4 linked regions of the Homo sapiens genome follow. The protein of the gene in region 1 interacts with the protein of each later gene in a biochemical or structural test. Each region holds a gene or a part of one and is shown in the gene's direction. Other genes may lie near its edges.

Region 1 (7,027 bases):
ACACCTCATTTCCATGTATTCTTATTTCTGTTCTGCTTCTTAAATCCCTGACTAATTTGTTAGTTTGCAAATTCCCTACAGAAATGGAATCATTGGGTTTGAGACTGAATTTCTTGATTTAACATTTTCCAATCTTAATTATACATGACAGTAGTAAAAGAAGAGTTAGTTGTTGGGTTTTTTTGTTAGTTAGCAGTTAAACCTCACAATCATGGTGGAAGGCAAGGAGGAGCAAGTCACTGATGTCTTACGTGGATGGCATCAGGCAAAGAGAGCTTGTGCAGAGGAACTCCTCTTTTTAAAACCATCAGATCTCGTGAGACTTACTATCAGAGAACAGCAGGGGAAAGACTTGTCCCCATGCTTCAATTAACTCCCACCAGGTGCCTCCCACAACATGTGGAAATTCAAGTCGAGATTTGGGTGGGGACACAGCCAAACCATATCAGAAGGGAGGAGTAACTTGCCCCAAGTTACAGAACTGCCAAACATGGGCCTGTCTGAGCCTAGTTGTTGGACTTTAACCAATGTTCTGAATTATCATTCAGGTTCTTTGTACTGCCTGTGTCCTTAATCTAGTTGACTCGAATGTACCTGCAGGTTTCAGAGCAGCGATGGAGAAATTAAATACTTGCAATTAGCAGAGGAACTGATTCGTCCTGAGAGAAACACATTGGTTGTGAGTTTTGTGGACCTGGAACAATTTAACCAGCAACTTTCCACCACCATTCAAGAGGAGTTCTATAGGTATGGGCATATTAATCTTCTTTACTTTGAATAGGGGTTGAAATCCGGGAAGCCAGCTCTTCTTGGACTGTAAGTGTTCACTTGTGTAGCAGAAGGTCAGCTTTCACAGTTATTTCCCACTGAGAAGAGGCGCTTTGATACTGCCAGTGGTCGTTTTAGTACTGCTCTGAACTTCATGTAGGCCTTTGTAGAGCCGAACGTTTTTTTGTTGTTGTGTTTTGTTTGTTTGTTTGTTTGTTTGTTTTTTGAGACGGAGTCTTGCTCTGTCACACCTAGGCCGAAATGCAGTGGCGCGATCTTGGCTCACTGCAACCTCTGCCTCCCGGGTTCAAGCGATTCTTCTGCGTCAGCCTCCCGAATAGCTGGGATTACAGGCGCCCACCATCACGCCCGGCTAATTATTTACATTTTTTAATAGAGACGGGGTGTCACCATGTTGGTCAGGCTGGTCTCGAACTCCTGATCTCAGGTGATCCGCCCGCCTCGGCCTCCCAAAATGCTGGGATTACAGGCGTGAGCCACCGTGCCCGGCCAGAGCTGAACTTTTTTTTTCAAATACAAATGTTGAAAATCTTTGCTTTCTATATAGTTTTCCCAAGAGGAAAACTGTACTTACTTACTTTTGTGTCATTCCATTGATCCTTTTTCCCCACAGGAATAGGTGTTTGTGTGGGTCCTTTTCTTGTACTGGGGATATCTTTACAGCATTGACGTTGTTGTACTTCTTGTTCCCTTAAAGTTTAATTTTGTTTTCGCTTATAAAAGTAATAGGTATATATTGTAGAAAATGGAGAAGAGTAAGGAGAATTAAATTGCTTATACACTTGTAATCCACCACCGTCATTAGCAGATCTGCTACAACAGAGTTCCAGGAGCCTTCCAAGTCTGCAAGTGCAGAGTTTTGTAAGGATCTTCTGTCACATTTTGATGTCTTTGTGTGTATGCTGTGTATGAAATTACTCAAATTCATATAAAATTTCTTAAACTCATACTAATAGCTCCAATTGTGGTTTTTTGGTAGAAATACTATGGTTAGACATTATATTTAATAGAAGGCTTTTATTTTGTTTTGACTTGTTATATATAGCAAGAAACATCTTTGCACACAAGACTTTGTATTAGGATTAAATAAATGTGACAGTCTATAGAAATAGAATCAGGTTAAAATAAATTGTGGACAGTTGTGAAAGATAAATGAAAACCCAGGGATAAGGAGGCACAGTCTCGTTCATTTCTTAGTAGATTAGGAGATGGAGGATTTGTCTGTGTTTCTGGTCATAGCTGATGATCAAGAATAATTGGAGGGGGTAAGTAAGCAACAGGATTTATTGTGAAAGCATGCAGCAGTAGAAGTTATAGCACTGACAAATAAGGGAGAGGTAGACAATCAAGCCTGGTGGTAGAAGCAGCTGTGCCATGCCTCATGCACAAGCCAGGCAGCAGTTCTCTTTCCTGAGAGTAGCGCCTTTTTTAGAGGGTTTCAGACCCCACTTCTTAAACAAACTAAGCTGGAGTAGGTATTAGAAACATATCAAAAGGACATGCATACTTCACTCTCACCAGTCAAATGGAGCATTTTTGCCAATTTGTTCTCACATTAGTGCACAAATACTTCTCCTGTCCTCATCCATTTCTTATCAAACCAGCCAGATGTGGTGGCTCACACCTGTAATCCTAACACTTTGGGAGGCTGAGGTGGATAGATCACTTGAGCCCAGGAGTTTGAGACCAGCCTGGACAACATGGTGAAATCCCATTTCTACAAAAAAAACCCCACAAAAATTAGCTGGGCATGGTGGTGCATGCCTGTAGTGCCAGCTACTCAGCAAGCTGAGATGGGAGGATCACCTGAGCCTAGGTAGATTGAGGCTGCAGTGAGCTGTGATCGTGCCACTGCACTCCAGTCTGGGTGACAGAGTGAGACCTTGTCTCAGAATGAAACCAAAGAAATTGACTGACTTGACACATGACTTACTAAGTCATAAACAGCCCACAGAAAATTCACAGTATTGAGCATAATATTGACAAGATGATTGTTCAGCTAGTCATCTTGGACAGAGGAATGGCCAACAGTGTGGGTGCTGTATGATTATTTATGTGCTATATGATAATCAGGTATGGTATGACATTTTATATTTAGTGTTCCGGTGGGATAGGAGAGAACTGAAAGAGGGTCCTAAACCTAGAGTAGATAATAGAAGTGTCCTACACAGTTAAGTTCTAAGGTTTAGTTGTAACCAGATGAAATTCCTTAATCTCGGCTGTTGGTAGGTATGTAAAGGGAAGGAGGCCTTGGTAAACCTCTAAGGTATCAGCTGACTTTTTTGTTTTTCAGAGTTTACCCTTACCTGTGTCGGGCCTTGAAAACATTCGTCAAAGACCGTAAAGAGATCCCTCTTGCCAAGGATTTTTATGTTGCATTCCAAGACCTGCCTACCAGACACAAGTAAGAAACCCTTCTCTGGAAAAAAAGGAATTCACCAAATGGTATAAGTACCACTTAGCTGACAGTCAGAAAACTTGAGAGGTTGCCTTGATCTGCTATTAGCTGGCTATTTAACATTATACAAATCACTTTTACCTCCCTGAGCCTCAGTTTCCTTGTCTGTGAAGTCTTTTGGCTTAGGTTTTCTACCTAAATCATGCAAAAAATAGGTTTGTTGCTGTAAAATTACTTTTTCATAATTGATAATCACAATAATTATAAAACAAGTACTTATAAAATTGATGCTGTAAAATACCAGGAGGAAAAAATAGTGGTTTGCATTCAGATTTTGTAGAAGGTTGACTTTTGTAGGAGTTATACCCACTTATCCAGAAAGTTTAGTGTTGGAGAAATGTATTTTCCTATGGAGATGGGATTAGATGTAAAGGGAGTGAAGCAAATTTTTAGGATTATCACATTTTAGGGCGCCTTTTAGGGAAATTTGGGAGAAAATTGATCAAGGGAGAAAATATGAAATTCTAGAAATTCCTGAATCTCTGGAAATTTTTGTTGGTTTAAATGCATAATTTTCAAACACCCCTTTGGCAGTTATTTTAAGAATAAATTTACTGGATAAAATTGAAGTGATATTTTGAAAAGTTAAACTACTGAAATTATAAAATTACCAAATTACTTCACATAAAATGGGTTTGTAAAGGAAGTGTTTCTGAACTTTGAGTACAAAATTTTTTCTCATGATAGGATTATTATGTAACACATGCTTTTTTTTTTAGAAATTGCGGGTAAGCAAAAAAGTATTTGCATATAAAACAAAAACAGGATCATTCTGTTTTTGTTTTTTTTTTTTTCTGAGACAGAGTCTTGCTCTGTCACCCAGGCCAGAGTGCAGTGGCACGATCTTGGCTCACTGCACCCTCCACCTCCCGGGTTCAAACAATTCTCCTGCCTCGGCTCCCCGAGTAGCTGGGATTACAGGCGCCCGCCACCACGACTGGCTAGTTTTTGTATTTTTAGTAGAGGTGGGGTTTCGCCATGTTGGCCAGGATGGTCTTGATCTCTTGACCTCATGATCCGCCCACCTTGGTCTCCCAAAGTGCTGGGATTACAGGTGTGAGTCACTGCGCCCAGCCCGTTCTGTTTTATAATTTTAATTTTCATTTTTTTGGCATCCTTTAGTTCATTTATATATTTTGTTCTGGATACATATACGTCATATAATTTAGGATTGGGCACGTTGACTAAATTATTCTTATAGGAGAGTCCAAAGAATACCTTGTCTCTTGAATTTTTTTTTTAAACATAAATTATCTTTGAATACCCTCTCACTAAAATGGAAAGATTCTTAGTTAAGAGATGAATGTTTACTAATGGGACATTTGTCTTTAAACAGGATTCGAGAGCTCACCTCATCCAGAATTGGTTTGCTCACTCGCATCAGTGGGCAGGTGGTGCGGACTCACCCAGTTCACCCAGAGCTTGTGAGCGGAACTTTTCTGTGCTTGGACTGTCAGACAGTGATCAGGGATGTAGAACAGCAGTTCAAATACACACAGCCAAACATCTGCCGAAATCCAGTTTGTGCCAACAGGAGGAGATTCTTACTGGATACAAATAAATCAAGATTTGTTGATTTTCAAAAGGTATTTATTTAACATCTGTTTAGATCAGAGTCCATCTATGATAATAATTCACTTCTAGGCCCTTGCAATAGCTTATTTAGATAATGTTCAACTCAATTTTTATGTAAGTTAAGCATCATCAAAATGACTACAAAGTTAAGCCCAAAACTGTTCATGTAAATTATAATTGTTAGTATATACATTTGTTTTAACTTTCAGTAACTTGGAAGTTCCTTAAGACTGACAAGATGTATTTGTCAAAGAATAAATGGTAACTAGGTGGTGGTGGTTGTCATTATGAACTGGAGTTAAGAAAACTTAAAGAAATAGCAACTTGTTAGTGTAAGATTTCCATTTGCTGCATAGAAAGGAAAGCATGAATAGGACAGGCTAGCTTGGAAGCAATGAGGATTATCATGATTGAAGTAAAGGAGCCAAATTGGAGATCATCTGAGAGATGATTTGATGTGAGACCTGGAGGTACTTGGATCCCTAAATCTTAGGCTGAGGAGTTTGAGCCTATCTTAATAAGCAGTGGGAATATAGTGGGAAGGTAGTTTGTGTGTGTGGGTGTGTGTTTGTTTTGTTTTGTTTTTTGTTTTTTTTTGAGACAGTCTCTCTCTGTCACCCAGGCTGGAGTGCAGTGGCGCGATCTCGGCTCACTGCAAGCTCCGCCTCCTGGGTTCACGCCATTCTCCTGCCTCAGCCTCCCGAGTAGCTGGGACTACAGGTGCCCACCACCACACCCGGCTAATTTTTTGTATTTTTAGTAGAGACAGGGTTTCATCGTGTTAAACCAGGATGGTCTCGATCTCCTGACTTCGTGATCCGCCTGCCTCTGCCTCCCAAAGTGCTGGGATACAGGCGTGAGCCACTGCACCCAGCCTGTGTGTTTTTTTTTAAAAGCAAACTGAATAAGTCCGTGATGGGTTTAACAGAGGGTAATAGGCAATTTCAGTTACCTGGGCAAGAGGTGATGGATGGCAGTAGTAAGAATGAAGGGGACCCTCAGATTTCAGCAGGACTTAATTTTATGGGACATACAAAATGGAAAGAAAAGCTGAAGCAGCTCAAGTATGGAATAATTATTATCAGATGAATTTAATATTATTTATATTGCTCTGATAATCATTCTCCTTATTTGGCTTTCTTACATTAACCTGGTAGCTTATAAGATGCACATATTTTACCAACAGCTTTGGGTAGGAGATGTCTTATCTTATAAAGTATGAATCTAGATTGGGTCTTAGTTTGGGGGGGGGAACACAACTGTATAAAGGACACTCTTGACAAGACATTTGAAGATGGACTAGATAATAGAAGATATGTAATTTTATGAAATTAAATATTGTTTAATTATCTTGGTTGTGATAATGATATTGTAACAGGATTGTCTTTATTCTTAGAGATGAATGCTAAAATATTTAGGTATGAAGTTTCTTGATGTTCACAACTGTGTTCAAATACATAGTAAAAAAACATGTATCTGTAAATAATGTTAGCAGTTGTGTTGAAGTGGAGGGTATAAAAGGTGTATTTGAAATTTTCTGTAAAATTATCTTAAAGCTTAGGAGAAGATGGAGCATGGAACAGATATTTGGAGTCATTTTGAACAAAGAAAAAAATTATTTTTTAATGAGTAAAAGTGAAGTTTTTTTTTTCTCTGCTGCTTGAATCATCATGGAGTTTTTAAATAGATGTAATCTCTTGCCAAATTGAACTATTTGACTAAAAGGAGTTTTAGAGTAGATAATTTTTAGGATAAATGTTGGTACATGTGAAAAGTCTGCTAATGGGTCAGATAGTTTAGAATACGTCCGTATTTGTGGTATTTAATTTAGATTATATGGCATCTGAAAGGTATTGCTTCTCATTCTTGGTTGGTTGTTTGTCTGTATTACAGGTTCGTATTCAAGAGACCCAAGCTGAGCTTCCTCGAGGGAGTATCCCCCGCAGTTTAGAAGTAATTTTAAGGGCTGAAGCTGTGGAATCAGCTCAAGCTGGTGACAAGTGTGACTTTACAGGGACACTGATTGTTGTGCCTGACGTCTCCAAGCTTAGCACACCAGGTCAGTAATCTGTGGCTCAAATTTAACAAATTCTCAGTTACCTAAACTGCACAGTATCTAGCTTCCCACATCTTCATTGTCTTCTTTTTGGCTACCAATCAGAAGCTGAGGAACGAAGTGTGATGAGAATAAAAACAAATTGGTTT
Region 2 (7,109 bases), on another chromosome or scaffold:
CTTTCCTTTTTGTTTTTGGAGGTTGTGTATAGAATTGACTGTTTCAGCCATAAGGGAGACATGCTGAGGATGGCAAGGGGCTGAGGCTGTGAGGACATAATTGAGCTGCTGAGACATCTCTGGAACTGTTTACACCTGGACTAGTTTGCCATATTCGATAATAAATATCTTTTTTTTTTTTGAGACAGAGTCTTGCTCTGTTGCCCCAGGCTAGAGTGCAGTGACATGATCTTGGCTCACTGCAACCTCTACCTCCTGGGTTCAAGCGAGTCTCCTGCCTCAGCCTCCTGAGTAGCTGGGCTTACAAGTGTGTGCCACCATGCCCGGCTAATTTTTGTATTTTTATTAGAGATGGAGTTTCATCACGTTGGCCAGGCTGGTCTCGAACTCCTGACCTCATGATCAGCCTGCCTCTGCCTCCCAAAGTGCTGGGATTACAGGTGTAAGCCACTGAGCTGGTCGATAATAAATATCCTTACTGAACGAGGCACTTTTAGTTGAATTTCTGATTCCTGCCATCAAAAGTAAGTCTTGCAGGAATTTTTAGATAATATTAAGGATTTGGAATTTAATCCTAAGGATTAGGAGAGCTATTAAAGGATTTTGTGCATGGGGTGACACAAGATGTTTGCTTTTCAAAAGATCACTTTAGTTGCCATGTGGATAATAAACTGGAGAGAGGCAATGATGGATGCGGGTAGAGCAGTTAGGAACTACTGCCATTAAGTCACACAAGAGAATGCAGTGATTTAAAATAAGCGGTGGCTATGGAAATAGAAGAAAATGAGCATGGTGGCTCACGCCTGTAATCCCAGCACTTTGGGAGGCCAAGGCAGGCGGATCATGAGGTCAGGAGTTCACGACTAGCCTGGCCAACATGGTGAAACTCCGTCTCTACCAAAAATATAATAAAATTAGCCGGGTGTGGTGGCATGCGCCTGCAATCCCAGCTACTCAGGAGGCTGAGGCAGGAGAATCACTTGAACCCAGGAGGCAGAGGTTGCAGTGAGCTGAGATTGCGCCACTGCACACTTCCAGCCTGGGCGACAGAGAGAGACTTCATCTCAGAAAAAAAAGAACTACTGAGATACATATTGGAGGCAGGATTGTGATTATGCTTGATTCAATGTGAATGAGGAAGAGGAAGAAATCAAGGATGACTTCCAGGTGTCTAGACTGAGCTATAAAGTGGATCATAGTGCCATTTGCTAAAAGAGAGATCAACCACTGGAGGAGGCTGCTACTATAATGAGTTCATTATTGGAGACATTGGGCTGAGGGTGTTTATGTCAAATGGTCAGTCATGTAAGCTATTAGGCTATTGGACATTTGAATGGCCTGGGGTAGAGATAAAGATGTGAAAGTTTTTGGAACCGAAATAGTGACAGAACCTGTGTGATTTTTGAGAGAAAGAGAAAGAGAGAAAGAGAGAGAGAGGAGAAGGGAAAAGGTCCTAAGACAGAATCCTAGGATCTCCAGCCCAGAGCCAGTGGAGAAGGAGACTCTGGCAAGGGAGAAGAAACAATAGCCAGAAAGAAAGAGGGAAAGTCAGAGTGTTTCCAGAAGGAGGGGATGGTCAGCACTAACAAACATAGTTGAGGGGTCAAGCAAAAAAAATAGCTGAAAAGAATCTATTGGAATTAGTTACATGAACGTCACCAGTGACACTGATAATAAAGCAGTTTTTGGACAGATGGAGGTGGAGAGGTTGGTTCAGAACCCAGACTGGACTGAATAAGAAGTGAATAATTAAGAAATGATGACAAAATGTAGAGGATCAGATCAAGAGATTTGGCCTTGAAGCGGATATGGGGCAGGAGTTGAGGCATAAGTGGGATGAAAGGGAGGTTTTTGTTTTCCTTTTGAAGATGGGAATAACTACCTTTTCATCTTATTTCCCCCCCCCCACCGCCTGCCCCCCACCACCCATGCTCCAGCTCCATAGGTCTTTCCTTTCTTTGGTTCTGCCTCATTCACTGTTCCCAGTCCACGCTTTTTCCTAAATCTTTGAATGGCTCACTTCTTTTCATTATTCATGGCTCTGCTCAAATGTCACTTCATCCAAAAATTCTTCTCTGAGCTTATTCTTCTCCTCATTGCCATTTACTGTTTTATCTTCTTCATGGCTCTGATTATCTGAAATGATTTTGTTCATTTGTTTATGGATTGATTACATGTATCTTCCTTTTGTTTGTTGTTTGTTTTTGAGACAGAGTCTCGCTCTGTTACCCACGATGGAGTGTAGTGGCATGGTCTCGGCTCACTGCAACCTCCACCTCTTGGGTGCAAGTGGTTCTCCTGCCTCAGCCTCCCAAGTAGCTGGGACTACACGCATGTGCCACCACACCTGGCTAATTTTTGTATTTTTAGTACAAAAATTTTTACTAAAGAAATGTATTTCTAGTAGAGACGGGGTTTCACTATGTTGGCCAGGCTGGTCTTGAACTCCTGACCTTGTGATCCACCTGCCTCGGCCTCCCAAATTGCTGGGATTTCAGGCGTGAGCCACTGCACCCAGCCTGTTTTGGTTTTTTGAGACAGGGTCTCCCTCTGTTGCCCAGGCTGGAGTGCAGTGGCATGATCTCGGCTCACTGCAGCCTCCACCTTTCCGGTTCAAGCGATTCTTGTGCCTCAGCCTCCCAAGTAGCTCACACCCAGCTAAGTTTTGTATTTTTAGTAGAGACAGGGTTTCACCATGTTGGCCAGGCTGGTCTCAAACTCCTGACCTCAGGTGATCTGTCCTTCTTGCCTCCCAAAGTGCTGGGATTACAGGCGTGAGCCACTGCCCCGGCTTGGTTTGTTTTTTGAGACATGGTCTCACTCTGTCGCACAGGACGGAGTGCAGTAGTGTGATCTTGGCTCCCGTGCTCAAGTGATCCTCCCACCTCAGCCTCCCAAAGTGCTGAAATTACAGGCGTGAGCCACGGTACCCGGCCTATATCTCCTAATTAAAAGTAAAGCCTGGGTGAAGTTTATGGCCTGCTAAATACGTACATGTATTATATGCGTTATTATATCCCATGTGTTATATTATATATTATTGTATATGTGTATTATATACTATGTACTATTCTTACAACTGTATGTGAATCTATAATTATCTCAAAGTTTTGTTTTTGTTTTTTAAAGTAAGTTCTGTGAGAACTGGGATTTTGTTTGCTTGTTGACGATTGTGTCTTCATCACTAGAACCGAGTCTGGCGTGCAGTGGGCACTAAATAAGTCTTCGTAAAAAGTGTAAATTAACGCCCGGCTAATTTTTGTATTATTAGCAGCGACGGGGTTTCACCATGTTGGCCAGGCTGGTCTCGAACTCCTGCCCTCAAGCAGGAGTTTCAAGCCCGCCTCGGCCTCCCAAAGTGTTGGAATTACAGGCGTGGGCCACCGCGCCTGGCTGATCATGTTTAAAGGGCGGGGTGGGGAGCGTACAAACAACAGAGGAAATCCTGAGCCGCAGAGGAAACTGGAGATGGCAGGGTTTAGCACTAGAATCTCTGTAGGAGAGGTAAGATTGGAATCCTAATCTCCAGGACTCTTTCCACTACCCAGGCTATCTCTCCATTAATGGACTATTGATTGGATGACAGAGTAGCGATAGCACCGTCTTAGGAGACGCCCAATCATAGGTCATAGGTCATTTTTGCAGCTTATTGTGATGACAACAGTGGAGGATGGTCTTCCACTTCACCTTAAAAGCGGCTGTTCTCTGATTATCATTAAGCATGGCCACGCCCGCACTTAACTTCTGACAGTGGGGAAAGCAGCTGTGTGTGATAGCTTGGAAGGTTTACTGCTGCCTCAAGTCCTCTTCTCTGCAGTTGAGGTTTCAGGTTTCAATCCTCCCAATACCACAAGACAGAGCACGGGGCGGCTGCCGCCTCCGCCTCCGCGCCTTAACCTAGGCGGCTTGCCGAAGATCTCAGCCCCGCGGCCGCGCGCTCGCCCTGCCCTAGACCAGGGTTGGGCGCAGCGGCGGAGGTGGCTTCTGGGCTGCGCGAGCTGGGAGAGCTGGGAGGCGGCGATCGCAGCTGGGCCGGGACTTCCTTCCTCCACCGCACGGCAACAAAACAACCCTGCGGCAGGCACTGAGTGCTTCGCAGCTGTCTGGGCGAGAGGCACAGCGATGGGCTCCGTGCTGAGCACCGACAGCGGCAAATCGGCGCCCGCCTCTGCCACCGCGCGGGCCCTGGAGCGCAGGAGGGACCCGGAGTTGCCCGTCACGTCCTTCGACTGCGCCGTGTGCCTTGAGGTGTTACACCAGCCTGTCCGGACCCGCTGTGGCCACGTGTAAGTTCCAGGGGAGCTCGGTTTGCGCCCACCCCTAAGGAGGGCGATGTGGGGAAGCTGAGGGCATGGTGTGGGGAAGGAGGGGGACGGAAGACAGCCTCTTAGGAAATTGCTGCAGGGAGAAACCTGGACCCGTCGGATGCAGGACCACGGGGAAAACGCGGGTCGGAAGGTGACACAGGATTTCGGGAGGAGAAAAAATAAACAAGCGGGTCCTGTAGCCCCCTTGCGCTTTCAGCTCCCGAAGCCCAGGTGCGGAACTCCAGAGAAGGGGATCCAGGCACGGGTCCCGCCCAGAGCCAGGGCTCGCCAACTGGGGAGGGTGCTCTTGGCTGGAGAACCAGCGCTCGCCCAGGCACGGAAAGGAAACGAGCTCCAGCTACAAGGCAGGGGCTCCCGCAAAGCGCAGTTACCCCGCTGAACACGGTAGAACGGGCTGCGCTTCCCTCTGCCCCAGAAACCCGGGTCCGTTTTGTTTTGCTGGAGCTGTGCACGTGTTCCCAGAATGCCCACAGAGGCTCGTCTTAAGCAAACAAGGATCTGTGCAAAGTGTCTTTCCACCCCCACCCCTGCTACCCTTTCCCAACACAGACACCCAGCCCCTCAAAGGGCAAGTCAAACTGGAGCTTCCGAGTGACTTTCCACAGTTGTTAGAGTTTAACAACCTGCTAGGGTGGGGCTTGGACGTTAGCCGCCAAGCCCCTGAATGTACTCCTTCAAAACCCAGCCACAACGTAACAGGAGGTGGCAGGCTACCTGCTTTACGCACGGTCTCTCCAAACCGGCGGAAATTACAGAGTAAAATAACTTTCTCAAAACCGCATAGTACTTAGCTAAAACTCACAGTTGGTGCAAAGCCGTGGTCGTTTCTAAGAAGAATTTAAAAACAAAGTCCCTATATAAAATTGGCACATCCTTAATGTGTGTTTGAATAACTGGTGGAGTTGGAGCTGTGAATTTGTGCTCTCTGTTTACTGTGTGTGTGTGTGTGTGTGTGTGTGTGTGTTTGAGAGAGAGAGAGAGAGACGTAGTCTGGCTCTGTCGCCCAGGCTGGAGTGCGGTGGTGCTATCTCGGCTCACTGCAACCTCCGCCCACTGCAACCTCCGCCTCCCAGGCTCAAGTGAGTCTCCTGCCTCAGCCTCCCGAGTTGCTGGGATTACAGGCGCCCACCCCCACACCCGGCTAGTTTTTGAATTTTGAGTAGAGATGGGGTTTCACCATGTTGGCCAGGCTGGTCTTGAACTCCTGACCTCAATTGATCCACCCACCTCGGCCTCCCAAAGTGCTGGGATTAAAGGTGTGAGCCACTGCACCCAGCCTTCTCTCTTTGCTTTGATTTTTTTTCGTGGATACGTGTGTGTGTGTTGTGTCTGCACAGATCAGGAGCGGAAGCCTACTTAATGTCCTTTGAAGGGTGACTATAGTATGATGAAGCCATGTGTGATACCACAGTGGCTTGTACCAGCATTTGGCTTAGCAGGAAGAAAGAAATACCGTTATTATGAATGCAAGTGCACAACATGTTTTTGAGGACCACTTTTGAAAGGATTTAGGTAGTCCTTAAAAACATGTTGTGCACTTGCAGTCAAAAGTTTTGACGCCCGGCGTGGTGGCTCACACCTGTAATCCTAGCACTTTGGGAAGCCGAGGTGGATGGATCACCTGAGGTCAGGAGTTCGAGACCAGCCTGGCCGACATGGTGAAACCTCGTCTCTACTAAAAATACAAAAATTAGCCAGGTGTGGTGACCCGTGCCTGTAATCCCAGCTACCTGGGAGGCTGAGGCAGGAGAACTGCTTGAACCTGGGAGGCAGAGGTTGCAGTGAGCTGAGATGGCATCATTGCACTCTAGCCCGGGCAACAGAGCAAAACTCAGTCTCAAAAAAAAGAAAGAAAAAAAAGAAAGTTTTGAAAGGACTTAGGTAATCCTTAATACCTATAGCCTTGTATCTGAAAAGCAGTTTTCACTACTGCCCGTCTGTGAGCCAGGGACAAAAGTGTGCAGCCTGCACAATGTATAAATAAAGAGTGCTTTGGGCATTATTTCGTAGCTGTGTTTTCTTTTCTTTTGAGATGGAGTCTTGCTGTGTTGCCCAGGCTGGAGTGCAGTGGCACGATCTTGGCTCACTGCAAGCTCCGCCTCCCGGGTTCACGCCATTCTCCTGCCTCAGCCTCCCGAGTAGCTGGGACTACAGGTGCCGCCACCACGCCCGGCTAATTTTTTTGTATATTTAGTAGAGACGGGGTTTCACCGTGTTAGCCAGGATGGTCTTGATCTCCTGACCTCGTGATCTGCCCGCCTCGGCCTCCCAAAGTGCTGGGATTACAGGCGTGAGCCATGGAGCCCGGCCGTAGCTGTATTTTCAAGGCCTGTTGTTTCAGCTTTGTTCTTAAAACTCGAGGCTTAAATTTACCCTCCTTTCTATTACTGATGTTGTTGCTCAGCTGTCCAGATGTAGCTTATTAACATAATATCCACAGGCCAGTCTGGAAGCCAAGATGGGCTGTGTGAGTCATAAAATATATTGATTATTTTAGGGCAATAACAGCCTAAAGATATCTCCATTTAAATTGAGTCATTATTAGCATTAAAACTTTAAAGTTGTGCAAAACATAAACAGTGGGCGTTTTGAAGATTCTTTTTGGAACAGACCGCTTTGCTATTCAATGATCTGACTGGAGATTGTTTTCTCGGTTTGGACTTTGAATATTATAATTTACCATTTACAATATTTTTCCTTCTACTAAAGGATAATATAAATTTGCAAAATGTTAAATTTTTTGTTTAATCTTTTTCTTTGTTAAAGTGAATAGGAAACTAG
Region 3 (7,169 bases), on another chromosome or scaffold:
GAGGCTAGAGTGCAGTGGTGCCATCACAGCTCACTGCAGACTAAACCCCCAAGGCTCAAGCAATCCTCCCACCTCAGCCTCCCAATTAGCTGGGACTACAGGTATGTGCCACCATGCTGAGCTAATCCTTTTTACTTTTATTTTTATTTTTTGGTATTTTTTTGTAGAGACAGTATTTCACCATGTTGCCCAAGCTGGTCTCAAACTCCTGGACTTAAGCTATCTGCCCGCCTCAACCTCCCAAAGTGCTGGGATTACAGGCATGAGCCACCACACCCGGTCTGCTTTATTTCTATCCTAGGTTAATAAATTCCTTAAAGATAGGAGGTTCTAAGACAGTGTGTCAGCTATTTATATATATAATAGTGGAAAGGGGGATAAGACTTCCACTAACTTTTCCTTTGTCATTTCTTTCTTTCCTAGTCATTTTTTTTTTTTTTTTTTTTTTTTTGGTGTGTGTGTGGGGGGGCGGGGTGTGTCCTTTAGTAGGGACATTCATGGAGAGAGAGATGAGCAAAATTATTTGAAAGTTGTTCTGGGAACCTATTCTGAGTTCACCGTACAACTGACCAGAGACTCCCCATTTCTCCCAGAGTGAGAAGTTGCACCCAACTCAAATTTCCACAGGCCTCAAGGTCTCCAGTAGCTGGGCATCTGGTTTTCCCAGACAACTCTTAGAATCACTTGGCTTCTAAATGCAGATTACCTGGTGCCTAAGTAGTTTGAAGTCTACTAATAAGATTGTTCTCATGTGCTCCCTCTAAGACAAGAGGACACTTAGGAGGGCAGGATCCCTTTGCAATAGCACAGATCCACAATCTCACTGGCACAAACAGGTCCATGGCTTTTCTTGCTAACTCTGAGTTAGTAACTTCTTCCAGCCCATAATGGGTCAGCCGTGAGTTAGGGAAGGGACAGATCCTGGGCTAGGCTATCTAAAGAAAACTTCACTGACTTTGGAGGATGCAGAGATAGAAACAAAAGACAAAAAGACACACACACACACACACACACACACACACACACACACACACATGCACATGCAGCACAAACAGACCTGGAGGCAGAATAAACATGTTATGAAGGAAAAATGGTAAAGGCACTGGTCTGACCCTAAAGAAAACTGTGTGTATGTAGTTATCAACATCTCTAAATAATAATTTTTATTAAACAATCTATCTCCACCTCCAATCTGCTTACAGGAGACATAAGTGCAACCAACCATTTGAAACCTAATGTCTAGCTGAGCATGGTGACATACAGCTGTAATCCTTGCTACTTGGGACGCTGTGGCAGGAGAATTGCTTGAGCCTCGGAGCTATAGTGATTCATGATCATGCCACTGCATTTTAGCCTGGGCAACAGAGCGAGACTCTGTCTCTACTAAGTAAATACATAAATGAATGAATAATAAAAATAAATAAATAAAACCTAACTTCTCATTGTACATTAATTCCATAGCCATTTATTAAATCCATACTATGTGAACAGCCATGTGCTAGGTATTAGGGATGGGATCATTGACAAAGGGGGAAAAAGTACCCATTATAAATTAACTAATACAAGCTAACAATGTCCAGGCCTATGGGACCAAGCACTTTACATGTATTATGTCACTTTATCTAATTTAATCCCTATAGCAAAACCAAGCAAGTATTTTATCCATGTTACATTTTTGAAATAGGAGTGTCACAGATATTGAATAACTTGCCCAAGTTACACGGCTAGTATAAAGTTTATAAACAATTTGACACTGTAGCCACTATTCTATTTGTGCGCCCTACCCCCCAATAAAGACAAGAAACCAAACTAAGAAACAAACCAAACCTCAAGAGTTGTCTCCATTTGTAGATCTTTTGTTCGTCAATAAATTCAATATAGTCTTTCTGTCTCACTCCAAAGCTGCTCTTTCTGAAGGCTCTAATGACTATCTCTGATCAATTCTGTATCCTCACTACTTCTGTGAAGCATTTGCTATAGCTGACCACTTTCTTCTAATTGTAAAACTTTCTGCTCTTGACTTCTATGACATCACCTTCTTACCTCACAGACTACTACTTCTCAGTCTCTTGCTGGTTCTTCCTCCTCCTCTGCTCAACTATGAAATGTTGGAAGTTATCATAGCCCAACTCTCCATCTACAATCTTTGCTTAGATAATATCGTATAGTCCAAGACTAGGTTTCATCTATAAATTCATAACTGCCAAGTTTATTTCTTCACCCTGAACTATACCCCAGACCAATATATTCATCTGTTTCTTTGACATCATCACTTGCATATCTTGGACTTGATTATTGTTAACGACCTCCCGATAATGACCACCAGGAACACAACTATAGCTGAGCAACTTGGATGTATTGCTTGTTTCAGTACGTGAGAATGCACACCATGGGGAACCATGGGATGTCTTAGGAAGAGGGTGTTAAAAAGGACTTGTTATAGAATTTGAGTTTGTGTTAGGAGATTTACGGAAGGGTGCAAGAAAGAGGGACTTTGGCCTGGATTGGAAGCTGTAAGGAAGCAAGGATAATTCTATAATTGGGTATTTTAATAAGTATTATGTAGAAGGAAGGAAGACTAGACTGAGGTTAAAACTATAATTGGTAAAGAAGCAGCAGGCACTCATATTAGCTAGGATAAGGAGATATTTGATCATTTTTATGGCTTGGGCAATGTTGATGTTGTGTCTGTGTTCACATATGATTATAGAGTGATCTTACTTTTGTCTTGATCTATCACGGTCACAACTCTGTCTTGTCTGATGTTCTGTGAAATTGTTTATGTTCAACAGAAGAATACCAATGCTTGGCTGTGATTGCCAGGCCAGCTCAAAGCAACAGCAAACCAAGCTGGTAGTACCAGGCCATCTCCTGGATGTCAAGGTCTGCTTTTCTCTTTCTCGGTATCCACACTAGAATCCTTGATTTACTCTCTTCCACCTCACTCAATCAAAAACCATTACCTCACAGACTTCCCTTCTATGTGGCACTACCACCCACACATATGCTAGCCCAAAACCTAAGATTCACTGTTGATGATGCCCTTTTCTTCATTTTCCATAGCCAATCACCAAATCCCATTGTCTTCTTTCTTTTATTTCTTCCGCCATTGTTCTGGTCCAAACTACCATTATGTTTCTCCTAAACATAAAGTGCATCCTATTTCCTCTGCTTCCACACTTGCCCCTCTACAATCCATTCTCTTCATAACAGATAGATCATATTACTCCCTTGCTTTAAAACTTTCAAATAGCTTCCAATTGTACTCAGAACAAACACTAAACTTCTTACCCTGGCTTTCAAGGACCCTGGTCTGGCTTCTGCCTAACTCTCCACCTTCATCTATCTGGGACTATCTTGCGGCTCACTCACTATGCTTCCCCCACACTGGCCTTTCCTGCCCTGCCCCTGCAACATACCAAGTTCCTCTTTCTCTCTGCATTTGCCCTATCCTTTCTTTGCCAGGACAACAGTCTCCCTACCAGCTCTTTCTCATCCAGGTCTCTTTGAGAGGGCTTCCCTGACCATCTAGATGCCACCTTCCTGGTCAGTATTTCCCTCAAGTAGTAATCAATGCCGGAAAGAATACTGTTCATTTATTCATCCGTTATTGTCATCGCTTCATTGGAATTTAGCTTCCTACAGGGATGGTGTTTATCTTGCTCACTATGATTCCAGCCCCTAGAAAAACCCACCTACCTCATAGCCAAGGGCTCAGTAAATAGTATACACTGCCTTCCTGCCACTGTGCTAATTTCTACTAACACAGCCACAAACAATCAGCAATTACATTTTCTGCTTGTTTTTAACGGGGAAGTAGGGCACTCAACGAAAAGGAAATAAAAGCAGAGTCAAGAAAGTGCCTTTTATCCATGGAGTGCCCAATGTGTTGTGCGGCCGGCCACGTATATAGGGATGTGTCAGCACCTGAGATTTTTCCTTCTCTGAGCTAGCTTCTTTCCTGGAAATCATGCTGGGCCCTTAGCCTTATGGTTCACCCTGTTTTTTAAGATCATCCACGGGCTTCATTCCCGTAACCGCTCTTCTAGCTGGCCAAGGCGGCGGGAAGAAACCCCACCCTCTTGCGCAAACGCCCAGTAGCGGAATCCGCGGGGTCGAGGGCTTTAGTGTGCGCATGTGCAACCAGAGCGGCGGCGGGAAGTGTTGCGCAGGCGCATCCGATCGACTCGGTAGGTGGGGATCTCTTGGAGACGGCGACCCAGGCATCTGGGGAGCCACAGAAGTCGTACTCCCTTAAACCGTGAGTTTCCGACGGTTTGTTCCATGGCGCGGGATTGTGAGGGATTAGGAACGAATTCTGGATCGTGACTTCGGTTTTCTCGCCGTGCAGTTCCTTTTCCCGCCCCCCTTCGGATCCCTCCGACCTGCGGCGGGAAAGTCGCGCGCCTGCGCACTAAGCATCTGGTTCGGTCTCTGGCCCGAGGGAAGCCGGTCCTTCCCGGCTGAGCTCGCGGCCAGCGCTGGCCGGCGGATTCCCATTCATTCACCCTTCTCCTCCTCCGCCCAGTACTCGTGGCCAGGGTCGTATCAGTTCTCCGTCAACTTGCTTGGGGCCTTGGACGAGCCTCCTGGCGCTTCCTGTCAGTGGCGAAAAGGTTTTCTCCCTCAGTTCTTTTCCTGACTTCAAACCGCCCCCGGCGCTCGGCCCCTCCCCCACGCGGTCCCGCTGGCTGTGCCGGACTGGCAGCCTCGCCGTTTCCCACTGCGCCTGCTGCTGCGCGGGTGCCCAAGCCGGGAAATTCTCCCTGCAGCCCCCTGCCGGTGTTTCTGATAGGTGAAAATAAAGCACATGGAATTCCTTAGACAAGGCCACAGTATGCCCTACTGTGGAGGTTTGGACACATCGTGCGTTTGAAAATGTTTGCCCCTTTGGGGGGCAGTAGCATGTTTTTAGTGCGTGGTTTAGCGAGTGATCTAAATTTCTCTAGTGTTCTAATTTTCACAGCTGCTTTGCTCCCCCTGTGGATGTAACCCCTTAGCTGGCATTTTGCATCTCAATTGGCTTGTGATGGAGGCGTCTTTGGGGATTCAGATGGATGAGCCAATGGCTTTTTCTCCCCAGCGTGACCGGTTTCAGGCTGAAGGCTCTTTAAAAAAAAACGAGCAGAATTTTAAACTTGCAGGTACGTGTTTAAATCCAAAGATGTACAGTTATAAAGATTTTTCAGGCAACAATTCTGTGTTTTCAATTCCTCTCAAAAAATAAGATTGAATCTTATAAAGTGAATTGTATGTTTCTATAGGACAGTGTTAAAACAGAGCTTCGTATGATCTAAATGTAGGACTGAATTGCGATTTGGAAGACTGTAATACAACCTGTTTTACGGTTGAAGTTGCTATGGTCTCAGTATTGGTAATTAAGAATGCAGAAATTTGATGATGCCCAAATTAAATTTCTCTTTTGTATCTGTGTTCTTATCTCTACTCACCACATTGCCTTAAGCTTAAATGTAGAAATTGACACTGGAGATCATCACTTAAGTATTCAAAAGCAGAACTCACAGACAAAAAAATATGAAATGTTTGTAGCAATAATAAAGCACCATATCTCAGTGTACAGCATGAAATGTTCTTTGACCGTAAACCAGACCTTAGGGTGAATAAGACAGGGTCAAGCAGTGCCTGCTCTTGTACACTCGCATGTGTACCTTCATTTCTGCTCTGGCACAGGACCTGGGACATAGTAGGTATTTGTTAATAATAAATATTTGTTAAATAGAGGAATTCTAGTTGACTGTATTTTTTTTTTTCTGAAAGGGTAGCCAGATCATCTTTCCCATCTTTGTCTTAAGTGAATTCTGTGCTTGTCTAAAAGATACTTATTTTGACCTTTTGTCCATATATTCTTTATAACCCCACCCTAGAAAAATATGACATCACATACTTTCTGCTTTGATGGAAGTCAGTTATCCCACTTACCTAAACTTGAAACTTTAATCTTCAGCTGATGCTTTTTATTTGTTCCCCATATCGTCACCTAGCTTTATTTCTTTTTAGTAAGTATGGCATTGTGTCTTCTTTCCATTCCCATTTCCACCACATTAATTAATTTCCTTACACTTTGTTCCTGATTTACAACAGTTTCTCACCTATGCTGCCTGCTTGCACTTTTCCATTCTTCAGTTCATCTTGTATGTTGGTGCTAGAATAATCTTAAAATGCCACTTTCATCCAGTTTCATGGATACTGTTCCTCTTCCTTTCCATTTTTCCAGCAGTTAGCTGTTTTTTTAGTTCATCTTTCCCTTACTAGTCACTGGACACATAACACAGTAACACAGTCATTGTAGTATTCTTTTTCTATTGCTTAGGACTCTGCATTTTGTCTCCACTGTAAACCCCTTGGCGGCAGTATCTCCTCTGGTTTCTAAAGTATGTTGTGACTTCAGCAGAGTATCTGAATGGATGACTCTGAATTGGTTCTAGCATCATGTTTAGGAGAATGCCACTATTCTAATATTCTGAAAATCTGCTGGGAAGTAATGAATGGGGTGAATTTTATTACGGATTTCAAAAGTTTTGTAGCGTTTATGTAACAGAACATTGGACATTATAATATGATAAATTATAAAACGTGCTAAAACTTTACTCTTATGGTTCTTTTTTAAATATGATCTTAATAACAGCTAAAGTTATATAAACATAACTTCAATAGGGAGCAAAGCTGATGAGGTCCAGGCACATAACAGTCTAGTAATCTAATTGGGAAAGTAAATCAAATTAGATCATGAGACAGGTATATGCCTGCACCTCATCAACTTTACTCCTTATTGAAGTTATATTTTTGATTGGATGTTTTATATATCTTAGCATTCCCAGAGCTTAACAGTGTCCAGCACATAGTAGGTGCTTGAAAATATTTGAATGAATGATTTAATGTAAGGATATAAAGTAAAATACTTAGTGTAATGGATGAATAGCATGTCTCTTTATTTTGAGATATTTGTCAGATTTTTATAACATTTTTCTGATAAACATGATTATTGAAATTTTTGAAGTAAAGAAAGCCAAAATAAAGTCTTTTCCCATTATTGAAATATTGCCACTGTTGACATTTTGTTATATTCCTTTAGCCTTTCTAGGCATACATAGGTACATTTTTTAGAAACTAAATTGGGATCTTGTTTTGTTTTTGTTTTTGAAAAGAGA
Region 4 (7,027 bases), on another chromosome or scaffold:
ATGATCCACCCGCCTCGGCCTCCCAAAGTGCTGGGATTACAGGCGTGAGCCACCGCGCCCGGCCTTCTTATGTCTTCCTGGTGAATTGACCCTTCTAGCCTCTGTAATGCTCTCTCTTCTGTCCCTGTTAATTCTTATTCTGAAGTCTGCTCTCTGATGTAGACCATTCTGGCTTTATTTTTATTAGTATTTACATAGTACTTTTTGCAGTCTTTTGCATTTAACATATCTATATATTTAAAATGGACTTCTTGCAGATATTGTCTTTTTCATCAAATTTGGCAATCTGTCTTTTAATTGGTAGTTTAAGTGATTTATACTTAATGTAACTATTGATCTTGTATTTAGGTCTACCATCTTACTGTTAGTTTTCTGCTGATGCCCTCTGTATTTTATTTCTGTTTCCCCCTTTCCTGCCTTCTTTCAGATTGATCTGCCAGCTTTTTAACTCTCTTCATTTTTGTTGTTTTATTTTAGTGGTTGCTATAGGATTTACGATATACATGTGTGACCTTTCGCAATCTATCTTGAATTAATATTTACCTTCTTCAAATAAAATGTAGAAGCCTTAAAATATTCAAGCCCTTTTACCTTCCCCACCAACCTTTATGCCATAATGTTTAGTACATCTTCTTATAATGAAAATGTCACCAGACAATGTTAAACTTTTTGCTTGAAAAAGTCATATTTTAGGGCTGGGCCTGGTGGCTCACACCTGTCATCCCAGCACTTTGGGAGGCCAAGGTGGGTGGATCACTTTAGCTCAGAAGTTCGAGACCAGCCTGGGCAACATGGTGAAACCCCATCTCTACAAAAAATATATATATAAATTAGCCAGGCCTGGTGGCATGCGCCTGTAGTCCCACCTGCTTAGGAGGCTGAGGTGGCATGATGGCCTTAGCCCAAGAGGCGGAGGTTGCAGAGAGGCAAGATCATGCCACTGCTTGCGACAGGGCAAGACCCTGTCTCGGGGAAAAAAAAGAAAAAAAAAGTTGGGTTTTAAAGAAAGCGACAGGAGGAAAATAGTCCTATTAACCCAGATGTTAACCTTTCCATTACTCTTCCTTCCTGAAATTACAGGTTTTCTTCGGATATATCCCTTTAGCCTGAAGGACTTACTTTAGCATGTTTTAGAGCAAATCTGGTGGCACAAGGAATTCTCTGAGATATCCTTCATGTGATCATATCTTTACTGGAAAAAGAATCATGAATTGAGAGTTCTTTGTCTCAGCACCTTACTCTTGTCCTAAAACTGTCTTCTGGTCTCCATGGATTCTGACGAGAAATCTGCAGTTACTCAAATTGGTATTCATTTATATCTACTGTATCATTTTTCTCTGGCTGCTTTTAAGATTTTTTTCTTTATCTTTGGTTTCAGAAGTTCGATTGTGCCTACACTTGGTTCACTGAGCTTATTGATTTGTGTAAATTTATGTTTGGAAAGTTTTCAGCTATTATTTTGTTAATTTTTTTTCTTCACTAGTCTCTCCCCTCTTTTTCCACCATTCCAGTTGACAATAAAGTTAGACATCTTGATGTTATTCCACAGATCCCTGTGGCTCTTTTCCTTTTTTCCTTAGTCTTTTTTGTTTCCTCTTTTCTTCCAATTGGAGATTTCTATTCATTTGTCTTGAAGTTCACTAATACTTAATTGTGTCATACATGTTCTGCTATTGAGCTTATCCAGTGAATTTTGTTATCTCACTCAGATAGTATATTTTTCAGTCCTATTATTTTTGTTTGGTTCTTATTTGTAGTTTTTCTGCTGAGAATTTGTCTCTTTCCATTCATCTTAAGTGTGTTTACCTTTACTTTTAAAGTCTTTTTCTAATAATTACAATATCAGGAACATGTTGGGGTTGGCATCTGATTGTCCTTTTCTCTCAAAAATTGATAATGTTTTTCTGGTTGTTTACATGTGAAATTTAAGTTTTGACTGTATACTGGACATTCTAAATGTTGTGTAGGCCCTATATCCTGATAGTCTGTAGGATGCTGATTTTGTTTCTGCCATTGTTTTAGCGGACAGTCATCCCAGTTTTGTTCAGACTGTTCTGTCTTGGTGGTTGTGGGTGGGGTGGATCTAATCTCAGTTTCAATTTTCAAAGCCCTTGCTATGCTGCGTTGGGTCTATCCTTAGCATGTGCAACTTGGAGGTAAGCCCTGCACTTGCATGGATTTATATAGGGAATTAGGGATCCCTTTCTCTAACTTGCTCTTTTCATGGATCAATCTCCAGCTTGCAGTGGCCTCTTTCCCAGGTCTTCTAGTCAGAAAGTGAGGGTTTCTCAATGTTAGCTTAAGCTTGTACTACCTTTACAATCTCAGCCTCCTAATTGGGACCCACCCTCAGGGCAGAACTGTGGGAGAAAAGAAAATAATACAGGGATTCTCTTGGTATTTTTGGCCACTTGAACCTCATTCCTGGTTCTTCCTGCCAGAAAGATAGGAGTTTTAGCTGCTGGCTCTGCCACTGCTGCTAACTCCATGACTGAAGGTTCCAGTTTTGACTTCCTTCCACAATCTGCCTGCTTATTTTACTTTTCATTCTTCAGGTAGTTGCTTATTCAGTGTTGTCCAGAGTTTCTAGTTGTAATCAGTGGAGTTGATTATCCATCTTTAACATATTGAATCTTTGCCTAAATTGACTGACTAATAAATGTTGACTAATTTCTTTATTCAATTTAATACAAAGATTTTGCTGAATAAGGGCATAAAAATAATATGACTTTTAAAAAAACATTTCATTAACTACCTTTTCATTATTGGTTTTCTTTTTATGAAGTCAAAATCAATTATAGCTAGAATGCAAGGTACTTGCTGAGTGTATTGTAAAACATTTAAAAACAATAGTTTTTTTTAACAAAGAATAATCCTTCTTTGATATAGCACTTTTCTGCATGATTTTTTTATCTTGAAGATACTGAGCAATTGCAGTTGCTGTTTTAACTGTACTTTCAAAGCCAATCTTTTCACTATATATTTTTTTTTAGGGCAAAAGAGTTGGTAGTGGTGCACAAAAAACAAGAAGTAAGTATTTTGTGATCTTTAAGTGTATTTGGTTTGCATTTGAAAAATCATAAAAGATCTTCTAAAATCATATAAACCACCCTCTAAATGATTTATTCAAGGCTTTCTTCGTCTTTATAGAACATAGATCCTTGGTGAAGTTTGGTGAAGCCTGTGGACCGCATTTTCAGAATGATGTTTTTTTTAAAACGTTTCCTTTAAAAATCATTAGTCTACCAAGAAAATGAATTATATTAAAATGTAGTTACCAAAATAGTTTTTAATTGTGAAATAGTGATAACTTGCTTTTTATTACACAGAACAGATTCTAGCAGTGAATCTAATTGCCACTTCATTTTGAATTGATAAGCGTAAACAATGCTTTGAGATATCTGCTCAAGCAGTTCATAACTGATGAAAATATGTGCAGTTTCTATTAGCATCAAAGTCGCAGGTACTGCGAATAGTGTGATTTGTTACATTTATAATTGAAGGAAATGCTAAATTTCAGTTTGAGGTTAGTGAAGACAATAGTGTAGTTTTTCTCCTGTTCTAATTTATGACCTTCCTGAATCCTGTTAATTTGAGGGTTCCATTTAGTTTAAGAATCTCAGAATATAGGAGAGAGCTTCTGTTATTTTTGGAAATGAGGTGATAATGGAAGTACCTCATCTGAGGCTTAAAACTTTAAAGTGGATACATAGTTTTTTGTTTGGAGGGTTTTGTTTTGCCACAGTAGTTTTATTAAAAAAAAAAAAGAATCCTGAATTTGCAAGTATCTAATATGTTTTCTATGTTCTCAAGCAGGAAGACTCAAAAAGCCTTTTGTAAAGGTGGAAGATATGAGCCAGTAAGTATTTAAGTCCAATCTGTATGATTTAAGTGCAATACTAAAGAGGAAAATCACCTAACTAATTAGGCTAGCTCGATTAGTACTGTTAGGTTCCTTTGTGTTTGATTTATATTATACTAATGTGCATGCGGCACAAGTTAACGAAAGTAGCATTAATTCATTTGTGCTCAAGGACTGAATTTAGTTTCAGTATGTTGTAGATATTCCTGAAATAGCTGGTTTAGAAAAATCATGACACCGTTTTTTTAGTATTTAAATTATTCTCTGGCTAAATGCAGTACCAAATGATTTAGAACTACTGAAAGATTACGCCTTCATTTGCGAAAAAGAAATTATTAGATGCTATTTAGAAACAGAAAATCTAAGTATAACATCTAACATGGTTGATTTCCAAAATTCTGAAGTATTGTAGGATAGTCTTGTTGTTGTTGTTGTTTGTTTTGATTTTTTGAGATGGAGTCTTGCTCTGTCACCCAGGCTAGAGTGCAGTGGCACGATCTCGGCTCACTGCAACGTCCACCCCACCCCCGGTTCAAGCAATTCTCCTGCCTCAGCCTCCCAAGTAGCTGGGATTATGGGTCTACGCCACCATGCCCAGCTGATGTTTGTATTTTTAGTAGAGATGGGGTTTCACCATGTTGGCCAGGCTAGTCTCTAACTCTTGACCTCAAGTGATCCGCCTGCCTCAGCCTCCCAAAGTGCGGGGATTACAGGCGTGAGCCACTGTGCCCAGCCATGTGGGATAATCTTAATGAAGACCACAGATATAAATAGGCCTGCCATGAGAGAATTAGATTACTTTCTTTTTTCTTTCCACTTATTCATTTAGACATCTGTGGTTAATTCTCTTGGGTACTCACACTGAGGCGACAAAAGTGTATTGAAAACTGCTTTTTATGAAATGTGTTGCTGTGAAGAAAAAAGTGCAATTCAAAAGGAGGCCTAGAAAAGACACTAGTATACGAAAGGACATCCCATGTTCATGAATTGGAAGATATAATATTGTTAAGATGTTAATACCACCCAAAGTGATCTACAGATTCACTGCAATCCCTATCAAAATCCCAATGATGTTTTTTGCAGAAATAGTAAAAACGTATCCTAGAATTCATACGGAATTGTAACAGATGCAGGAAACCCAAGACAATCATTAAAAATAACAACAAAGGCCAGGCGCGGTGGCTCACTCCTGTAATCCTAGCACTTTGGGAGGCCGAGGCAGGCAGATCACGAGTTCAGGAGATGGAGACCATCCTGGCTAATACGGTGAAACCCTGTCTCTACTAAAAATATAAAAAATTAGCCGGGCCTGGTGGCGGGCACCTGTAGTCCCAGCTACTCAGGAGGCTGAGGCAGGAGAATGGCGTGAACCCGGGAGGCAGAGCTTGCAGTGAGCCGAGATCACGCCACTACACTTCAGCCTGGGGGACAGAGCAAGACTCCGTCTCAAAAAAAAAAAAAAAAAAGAACAACAAAGTAAGAGGTCTCACACTTTCTGGTTTTAAAACTTACTGTAATGCTACAGAAATCAGAACAATTTGGCATTGGAATAAAGACATATAAACGAATGGAATAGAATAGAGAGCCTAGAAATAAACCATCACACATATGGCCAAATGATTTTCAACAAGGGTATGAAGATAATTTAATGGAGAAAGGACAGTCTTTTTTAACAGTGTTGAGAAAACTAGATATACACATGCAAAAGAATGGCATTAGACTCCTACCTCACATCATGTTCAAAAATTAACTCAAAATGGACCAAAGACCTAAAATGGTAAAACTCTTGGAGAGAACACAGGGGAAAAGCTTCATGACATTGGATTTGCAGTGCTTTCCTGGACGTGACACCAAAAACACAGATTACAAAAGATAAAATAATTAAATTGGACCATATCAAAAATATAAATTTCTGTGCCTAAAGGGATATAACAGTAAAAAGGCAACCGAAAGGATGGAAGAAGATACTGCAAGTCATGTATCTATTTCTTTTTTTCAGCTTTCTCAGGTTGAACAAGTCATATATCTAATAAATGTTAATATCCAGAATATATTAAGAATTACAAGTCAACAACAAAACAACCCAATTTTAAAAAGGGGCAAAGCGCTGAATAGACATTTTTCCAGAGGTGATACACAAATAGCCAATAAGCATATGAAAAGATGCTCAACATTACTAATCATGAGGGAATTGCAAATCTAAACCACAGTGAGATACCACTTTACATTATTTAGGATGGCTACTATTAAGCAGCCAAAAAGTGAAAGTAATCCAAGTCCATCAGCAAATTAATGGATAAACAGTATGCAGGATGTGTGTGTACACACACTCAATGGAATATTACTCAGCCTTTAAAAGGAATGAAATTCTGACACGTGCAACATGGATAAACCTTTAAGACGTTATGCTAAGTGAAATAAGACAAAAAATACTGCATGATTCCACTCCTGAAGCATCTACGTTAGTCAAACTGATAACAAGAAGTAGAATGGTGGTTGTCAGGGGATATGGAGAAAGGATATTTGGGAAGTTACTGTTTGATGGGTATAGAGTTTCAGTTTTTGCAAGATGAAAATACGTCATCTTACAAAAGATGGACGGTAGCAGTGATGGTACCACAGCATTGTGAATACTTAATGCAACTGAATTGTACACTTAAAATGGTTAAGGTAATAAATTTTATGTGTATTTTACCACAATTTAAAAAATGTTTAAATGTTAAAAATTGTTAGGCCTGAAATTGATTTTTTGAAGGAAAGCCTAAATAATTTGTTATTTCAGATTCCAGCTTAATTATATGATTTTGAAATACAAAACTTTAAACCTTTTTTCTTTAATCATAAAGAATCTCATGTATTTGTCTTTTTATTCTTCTAGACTTTATAGGCCATTTTATCTTCAGCTGACCAATATGCCTTTTATAAATTATTCTATTCAGAAGCCCTGCAGTCCATTTGATGTAGACAAGCCATCTAGTATGCAAAAGCAAACTCAGGTTAAACTAAGGTTGGTTTGAATCTTTACTTTTAGAAGGAATATTCAGAATTTCATCTCAATTTTTCTTTGTAAAGATTTGAAATAGTTTCATTTATGCCATAATGGTTATTTGTGTTTGTAATTACTATTCTGATTACTTTTATAAGTCTGAATCTGTTTAGATGGAG

The links.
Region 2: the proteins of MCM6 (region 1) and RNF125 form a complex in vitro, tested with the Homo sapiens proteins (one study listed by BioGRID).
Region 3: of the proteins of MCM6 (region 1) and CDC7, one has a biochemical effect on the other in vitro, tested with the Homo sapiens proteins (2 studies listed by BioGRID).
Region 4: of the proteins of MCM6 (region 1) and DBF4, one has a biochemical effect on the other in vitro, tested with the Homo sapiens proteins (2 studies listed by BioGRID).

The regions. Positions count from the first base shown.
Region 1 is NC_000002.12:135,866,417-135,873,443, reverse strand, and holds part of MCM6 (DNA replication licensing factor MCM6), read left to right. Parts: intron 1-600; coding exon 601-747; intron 748-3,082; coding exon 3,083-3,193; intron 3,194-4,583; coding exon 4,584-4,833; intron 4,834-6,715; coding exon 6,716-6,881; intron 6,882-7,027. UniProt on the Homo sapiens protein: Acts as a component of the MCM2-7 complex (MCM complex) which is the replicative helicase essential for 'once per cell cycle' DNA replication initiation and elongation in eukaryotic cells.
Region 2 is NC_000018.10:32,014,742-32,021,850, forward strand, and holds the start of RNF125 (E3 ubiquitin-protein ligase RNF125), read left to right. Parts: upstream 1-4,083; 5' UTR 4,084-4,122; coding exon 4,123-4,286; intron 4,287-7,109. UniProt on the Homo sapiens protein: E3 ubiquitin-protein ligase that mediates ubiquitination and subsequent proteasomal degradation of target proteins, such as RIGI, MAVS/IPS1, IFIH1/MDA5, JAK1 and p53/TP53.
Region 3 is NC_000001.11:91,496,688-91,503,856, forward strand, and holds the start of CDC7 (cell division cycle 7-related protein kinase), read left to right. Parts: upstream 1-4,163; 5' UTR 4,164-4,261; exon of another isoform or gene 4,262-4,966; 5' UTR 4,967-5,029; coding exon 5,030-5,144; intron 5,145-7,169. UniProt on the Homo sapiens protein: Kinase involved in initiation of DNA replication. Phosphorylates critical substrates that regulate the G1/S phase transition and initiation of DNA replication, such as MCM proteins and CLASPIN.
Region 4 is NC_000007.14:87,893,481-87,900,507, forward strand, and holds part of DBF4 (protein DBF4 homolog A), read left to right. Parts: intron 1-2,993; coding exon 2,994-3,030; intron 3,031-3,813; coding exon 3,814-3,859; intron 3,860-6,740; coding exon 6,741-6,869; intron 6,870-7,027. UniProt on the Homo sapiens protein: Regulatory subunit for CDC7 which activates its kinase activity thereby playing a central role in DNA replication and cell proliferation. Required for progression of S phase.